2 linked regions of the Homo sapiens genome follow. The protein of the gene in region 2 purifies or fractionates together with the protein of the main gene of each other region. This does not show direct contact. Each region holds a gene or a part of one and is shown on either strand. Other genes may lie near its edges.

The links. Proteins that work in one complex are often made in the same cells at the same time.
Region 1: the proteins of TLR2 (region 2) and CLEC7A purify together in Homo sapiens (affinity purification with western blotting, with the first as the bait; one study listed by BioGRID). This does not show direct contact.

Annotation. Positions count from the first base shown.
Region 1 is NC_000012.12:10,120,200-10,123,699, reverse strand, and holds part of CLEC7A (C-type lectin domain family 7 member A), read left to right. Parts: intron 1-336; coding exon 337-455; intron 456-3,500.
Region 2 is NC_000004.12:153,690,780-153,694,279, reverse strand, and holds part of TLR2 (toll-like receptor 2 precursor), read right to left. Parts: intron 1-3,500. UniProt on the Homo sapiens protein: Cooperates with LY96 to mediate the innate immune response to bacterial lipoproteins and other microbial cell wall components. Cooperates with TLR1 or TLR6 to mediate the innate immune response to bacterial lipoproteins or lipopeptides.

The sequences.
Region 1 (3,500 bases), on a different chromosome or scaffold from region 2:
AAGCTCCGCTTCCCGGGTTCATGCCATTCTCCTGCCTCAGCCTCCCGAGTAGCTGGGACCACAGGCGCCCGCCACCGCGCCCGGCTAATTTTTTGTATTTTTAGTAGAGACGGGGTTTCACCTTGTTAGCCAGGATGGTCTCGATCTCCTGACCTCATGATCTACCCGCCTCGGCCTCCCAAAGTGCTGGGATTACAGGCGTGAGCCACCGCGCCCGGCCTTGCATTCTTTACCAAAGTGATTCAATCAGTTGTCTTTTTCTCAGCGTCCATGATAATAGTTTCTTTCTCTCTCTCTCTCTCTCTTTATTATATATTTGTATATGTTTCATTACAGGGATTTATAGTAAAACAAGTGTCTTCCCAACCTGATAATTCATTTTGGATAGGCCTTTCTCGGCCCCAGACTGAGGTACCATGGCTCTGGGAGGATGGATCAACATTCTCTTCTAACTTGTAAGTGTTTGGAGAGACAATGCTTCATCCTTTTTCTCAGAGAGGTTTCCATCTCATCTATGAAAACCTCTGTCGAGCAGCTAAGAACCTGATTTGCTCACCATATATGAGAAAGAGAGGGAGAAAGATATAGAAGAAGAGAAAGAGTGAACTAGGACAAGAGGAGAAAGATGAGGAGGACCTTAGAGTGAAAAAGAGTGAGGCCATCTAGTAGCATCAACACAGATATTCTTCTGGTTTTCTTACTAGGGAGGCATCGACATGTTTGAAGTTGTCCAGGCAAGGAGCAGTCACTGTCAGTCAGTGTAACTCCCCGGTTAAGAGCATGGGTTTTGAAGCCAGGCCTCAGTTTGGGTTAATGATTACCCCACTCACTGATTGTGTGACACTGGGGATAAGTCACTTTTCCTCTCTGAGTCCCATTTTCCATAAACAAGAATAGAAAGGTGCTCTTGGCCAGGTGTGGTGGCTCACACCCGTAATCCCAGCACTTTGGGAGGCCCAGGTGGGCGGATCACTTGAGGTCAGGAGTTTGAGACCAGCCTGACCAACATGGTGAAACCCCACCTCCACTAAAAATTTAGCCGGGTGTGGTGGCATTGCCTGAAATCCCAGCTACTCAGGAGGCTGAGGCAGGAGAATTGCTTGGACCTGGGAGACAGAGGTTGCAGTGAGCTGAGATTGCACCATTGCACTCCAGCCTGGATGACAGAGTGAGACTCCAGTGAGACTCCAACTCAAAAAAAAAAAAAAAAAAAAAGAAAAAAAGAAAGAGTGCTTTCCTCTTAGAATTGTGAGATGGGTATAAAAGTAAAATAATTTAGCACAGTGTCTTGTACATAGTTAATGTGTGAGACTTATTATTAAGTTAAAAAGCAACCACATTTTCACATTTTGCATTTTAGAAAGATATTTTAAACGTATTTCACATTTGCCTGATGATACATTATTCCTTATTATGTGGTTTCTGTCACTGCTGTTGTCATTCATTTGCTTTTTAATATCTGCAGAATATGAAATATGTCTCTTTTAAGTTCTTATTATTAGTGTGTGTGTGCACACCTGTGTGTGTTTTTTCATCTGTCTCAGTAGGAGTACCGTTCAATTTGGTTTTTCAAAGAAAGTAACTTTTGACTTTGTTGACTCTGTCTTTTTATTATTTCTTTCATTAACTTTTATTCTAATCTGTATTACTTCCTTCCATCTAATTTATTTTTATTTTATTTTGTTTTATTTTTTGAGACAGAGTCTCACTCTGTCACCCAGGCTGGAGTGCAATGGCGATCTCGGCTCACTGCCAGCTCCGCCTCCCGGGTTCACGCCATTCTCCTGCCTCAGCCTCCTGAGTAGCTGGGACTACAGGCGCTCACCACCATGCCCGGCTAATTTTTTGTATATTTAGTAGAGACGGGGTTTCACCGTGTTAGCCAGGATGGTCTCGATCTCCTGACCTAATTTATTTGTTTTAAATTTGCTATTCCATCTCAAACTTCTCGTATTGGGTGCTTGCCTCATGAATTTAAGCCTTCCTTTATCTCAAGTATGTAGACTTAAGGCTATAATTTTAATGTATTTTCATTGTCTTTCAGTTCAAAATACTTTCTGATTTCCACTGTGAGCTGCTCTTTGACCCAGGAGTTATTTAGAAATGCATTTCTTAATTTACAAACATATGTGTTTCTGGTTATCTCTTTGTTTTAGGTTTCAGGCTTAGTTCCACTGTGATCAGAGAACATGCTCCACGTGCTTGTAGTTCTGTGATTTTTACGTGCTTCTTCCTCTTTCCATATGAAAAGAATTGTGTTGAAATCTTCCGCTGCGATTCTACTTACAGTTCTGTAAACATTTTATTCGATGTGTTGAAGCCGTGTTATCAGGCACATAAAGATTTAGAATTGTTACTTTTTTTCCCCTTTCTTTCCTCCTTTTTGGACGATTTAACACTTTTTCTTATTCTGTTTTTTTTTTCTGTTCATTTGGAATGTGCTCTTTCATGTCTTTTACATCTCTTTTACTAATCTTTTAGTAGTTGTTCTAGGAATTACACATGTATACTTCACTCATCAAAGACTAACATTAACTGACATTTTTATGTTCTTCCTGACCAATATAAAAATCATAGAGCATTCCTTTACTCTGTTGACTCTCTCCTCAATTTATATGCTATTATATTAATGTATTTATTTTTATTTATTTATTTTTATTTTATCGCCCAGGCTGGAGTGCAGTGGGGCAATCTTGGCCTACTGCAACCTCTGCCTCCTGGGTTCAAGCGATTCTCCCACCTCAGCCTCCTGAGTAGCTGGGACTACAGCTATGCGTCACCAGCTGGGTGTGGTGGTGGACGCCTGTAATCCCAGCTACTCAGAGGTTGAGGCACCAGAATTGCTTCAACCCGGGAGACGGAGGTTGCAGTGAGCCGAGATCGCACCACTGCACTCCAGCCTGGGTGACTGAGCCAGACTCAGTATTAAAAAAAAAAAAAAAGAAAAAGAAAAAAGAAAAAACTAGCCCTTGGGCCGGGCGCGGGGACTCACGCCTATAATCCCAGCACTTTGGGAGGCCGAGGCAGGCGGATCACTTGATCTCTGGAGTTCGATACCAGCCTGGCCAAAATGGTGAAACCCCATCTCTACAAAAAAAAAAAAAAGATATAAAAATTAGACAGACAAGGTGGCGCACAGATTTATGCAGTTAGTATTCATTTCAATTTGCCCACATATTTATGATTTTAGTTGTTTATTTCTTTCTTCCTTTCCAACTGTACATTACAGGTATTTTTTCTTAAGACTGATATTTCCAGTAAGTATAGAATTAGAGGTTTGTTGTTTTTCCTCTCAGCCACTCAAATATATTATTCCACTGTTTTCTATTTTTTACTGTTGTTTTTGAGAGGTCATCTGTTTGAAGGTAATATATGTTTTAAAACTAATGTGTTTACTCAGCACTGAAAAATTCTCAGCCATACTTGCTTCATATTTTGCTTTTCCCCATCTTTTTTCCCTTCTCCTGGAATCCCAGTTACATTCATTACAGACCCATTGA
Region 2 (3,500 bases):
GGTCCACCCAAGATGGAAAACCACTTAAGGCATTCCTAAGCCACAAACAATAGCATGAGCGATCTGTGCCTTAAGGACGTGTTCCTGCTGCAGATATCTAGCCAGAGCCCATCGCTTTGTTTTGGCCCATCCCTTTGTTTCCTGTAAGGAATACTTTTAGTTAATCTATAATCTACAGAAATAATGCTTATCACCGGCTTGCTGTCAATAAATACGTGGGTAAATCTCTGTTCAGGGCTCTCAGCTCTGAAGGCTGTGAATCCCCTGATTTCCCACTCCACACTCTATGTTTCTGTGTGTGTGTCTTTAATTCCTCTAGCACTGCTGGGTTAGGGTCTCCACGACCGAGCTGGTCTCGGCAAGTGGCGCCCAACGTGGGGACTCAAACCCAGGATGAAGGCTCGCTGGAGCAATGGTTGGAAAACGTGGAACAAAGCTGGAGGATACCCGAGTACTCTTAAGCAATCCCCATGGTGAGTAAGAAGGGGAGCTCGGAAGCATCAGGGTAACAATGGGCAAGTGTGGGCTCTAGCTCATTCCACCTTGGAACCTTTTCACACTAAAGATGAGGAGGAAGGAAAGTATAATGAAGTAACAGAAGAGGTGACAGAGCAGGTTTGTTTGCCAGCTAAAGCTAAAGTGGCAAAGGAGGGAGAGGTTTGTCCCTACCCTTCTGCACCCCCTCATTATTTCGAAGCAAAAGAGTAGCCTGATCCTCCAGATCTTTCTTTTCCAGAGGACACTGGGCAAAAAGTAGTCGCCCCAGTGACTGAGCAGCACCTCGAGCGACCACTCTCAGTTCTATTCAGCCAGGAATTCAGCAAGTTAGAAGAGAGGGTGATATAGAGGCTTAGCAGTTCCCTGTTAGAATATACCCCGTAGATCAACAGGGAAATATTATAGCTACATTTGAGCCTTTTCCTTTTAAATTACTCAAAGAATTTAAACAAGCTATTAATCCATATGGAACAGGTTCTCCTTTTGTAATGGGACTGTTAAAGAAGGTTGCTGTCTCCAGTCAGATGATGCCAGCGGGGATGGTAGGATTACTTCTAGGTAGGTCTAGTTTAAATTTAAAAGGCGTGCAAGTACAAACAGGAGTCATTGATTCAGATTACAAAGGGGAAATTCAAATTGTTATATCTACTTCTGTTCCCTGGAAAGCAGAGCCAGGAGAGCATATAGCACAGCTCCTGATTATGCCATATGTGGAAATGGGGAAAAGTGAAATTAAATGAACAGGAAGATTTGGAAGCACAAATAAACAAGGCAAAGCAGCTTATTGGGTGAATCAAATTACTGATAAACATCCTACTGGTGAAATAACTATTCAGGGAAAGAAATTTAAAAGTTTGGTAGATACAGGAGCGGACATTTCAATCATTTCTGTACAGCACTGGCCATCTGCATGGTCAATTCAACCTGCTCAATTTAACATAGTTGGAGTTGGTAAAGCCCTTAAAGTATATCAAAGTAGTTATATTTTGCATTGTGAAGGGCCCAATGGACAACCTGGGACTATACAAAAAATTATAACTTCTGTACCTATAAATTTATAGGGAAGAGATTTATTACAACAATGGGGATCACAAGTTCTAATTCCAGAATAATTATACAGCCCTCAAAGTCAACATATGATGCATGAAATGGGGTATGTCCCTGGTATGGGACTAGGAAAAAATTTGCAAGCTTTGAAGGAAATGCTTCAAGCGGAAAGACAAAGTTCCCACCAAGGTTTAGGATATCATTTTTGATGGTGGCCATTGTTAAGCCTCCAGAACCTATATACCTTTAAAATGGTTAACAGATAAGCCAATTTGGATAGCACAATGGCTGCTGAGTAAAGAGAAACTGGAGGCTTTAGAGGACTTAGTTGCTGAACAATTAGAAAAAGGACACATAGCTCAACATTTTCCCCTTGGAATTCTCCAGTTTTTGTAATTAAGAAAAAATCAGGTAAATGCAGAATGTTAACTGACTTAAGAGCCATTAATTCAGTTATACAACCTATGGGGACATTGCAGCCGGGACTGCCTTCTTCTGCTATGATTCCAAAAAATTGGCCTTTAATAGTCATAAATTTAAAAGACTGTTTCTTTACTATCCCCTTAGCTGAGCAAGGCTGTGAACTGTTTGCATTTACAATTCCTGCAGTAAAAAACCTGCAGCATACTAAAGCATTTGTATTGGAAAGTGTTGCTACAAGGCATGTGAAACAGTTCAAAAATTTGCCAGACTTATGAAGGGCAAGCAATTGAACCTACTCGTAAAAAATTTTCACAGTGTTACATTATTCATTATATGGATAATATACTTTGTGCTGCCCCCACTCAAGAAATATTACTCCAATGTTATGATCACTTGCAAAACTCGATTTCTCATGCCAGTTTAATTATATAGCTCCTGACAAAATTCAGACTACTACTCCTTACTCCTACTTGGGGACCTTAGTAAATGACACTACCATTGTGCCACAGAAAGTAACTATACGTAGGGATCAATTGAAAACATTAAATGACTTTCAAAAATTACTAGGGGACATTAATCGGATATGACCTGCTCTAGGCATTCCCACCTATGCCCTGAGTAATCTATTTTCTATCCTTAGAGGAGATCCTAGTCTCATTAGCCCTCAGCAATTAACAAAAGAAGCTGAGGCAGAGCTGCAGCTAATCAAAAAGCAAATCCATAAATCTCAAATAAATAGAATAGATCCAAAAAAGACCCTAGATTTGCTAATTTTTCCAACTCAGCATTCACTTACTGGTGTTATTGTATAAGAGCAAGACTTTGTACAGTGGCTTTTTCTTCCACATACTAATTCACAGACTCTAACTCCTTATTTGGATCAAATGGCTACGATGATAAGAAATGGGAGAATTCGGATTGTTAAATTACATGGATATGATCCTGGAAAAATTATTGTCCCTCTCACAAAGGCACAAATACAGCAAGCTTCTATAAATAGTCTTACTTGGCAAACCCATTTAGCTGACTTTGTGGGTATTCTTGATAATCATTTTCCTAAAATGAAATTATTTCAATTTTTGAAATTAACTAATTGGATTCTCCCCAAAATAACTAAATTTAAACCAACTGAAGGTGCTGAGAATGTTTTTACAGATGGGTCTTGTAATGGTAAAGCCTCTTATTCTGGATCAAAAGGTAAAGTTTTTCACACGCCCTATACTTCAGCTCAAAAAGTGGAGCTTTAGCTGTAATTGAGGTATTGACTGCTTTTGATATGCCTATTAATGTGATTTCTGATTCTTCCTATGTGGTTCATTCCATACAATTAATTGAAAATGCTCAGTTATGACTTCATACAGATGAACAACTGATGACTTTATTTACCCAATTGCAAACAGCATTTAGGAGTAGAATGCACCCTTTTTACATCACTCACATTAGGGCTCATACACCTCTTCCAGGACCTTTAACTGAAGGGAATCAAATGGCTGATCGCCTAGTTGCTACTGCAATATCTAATGCTAGACACT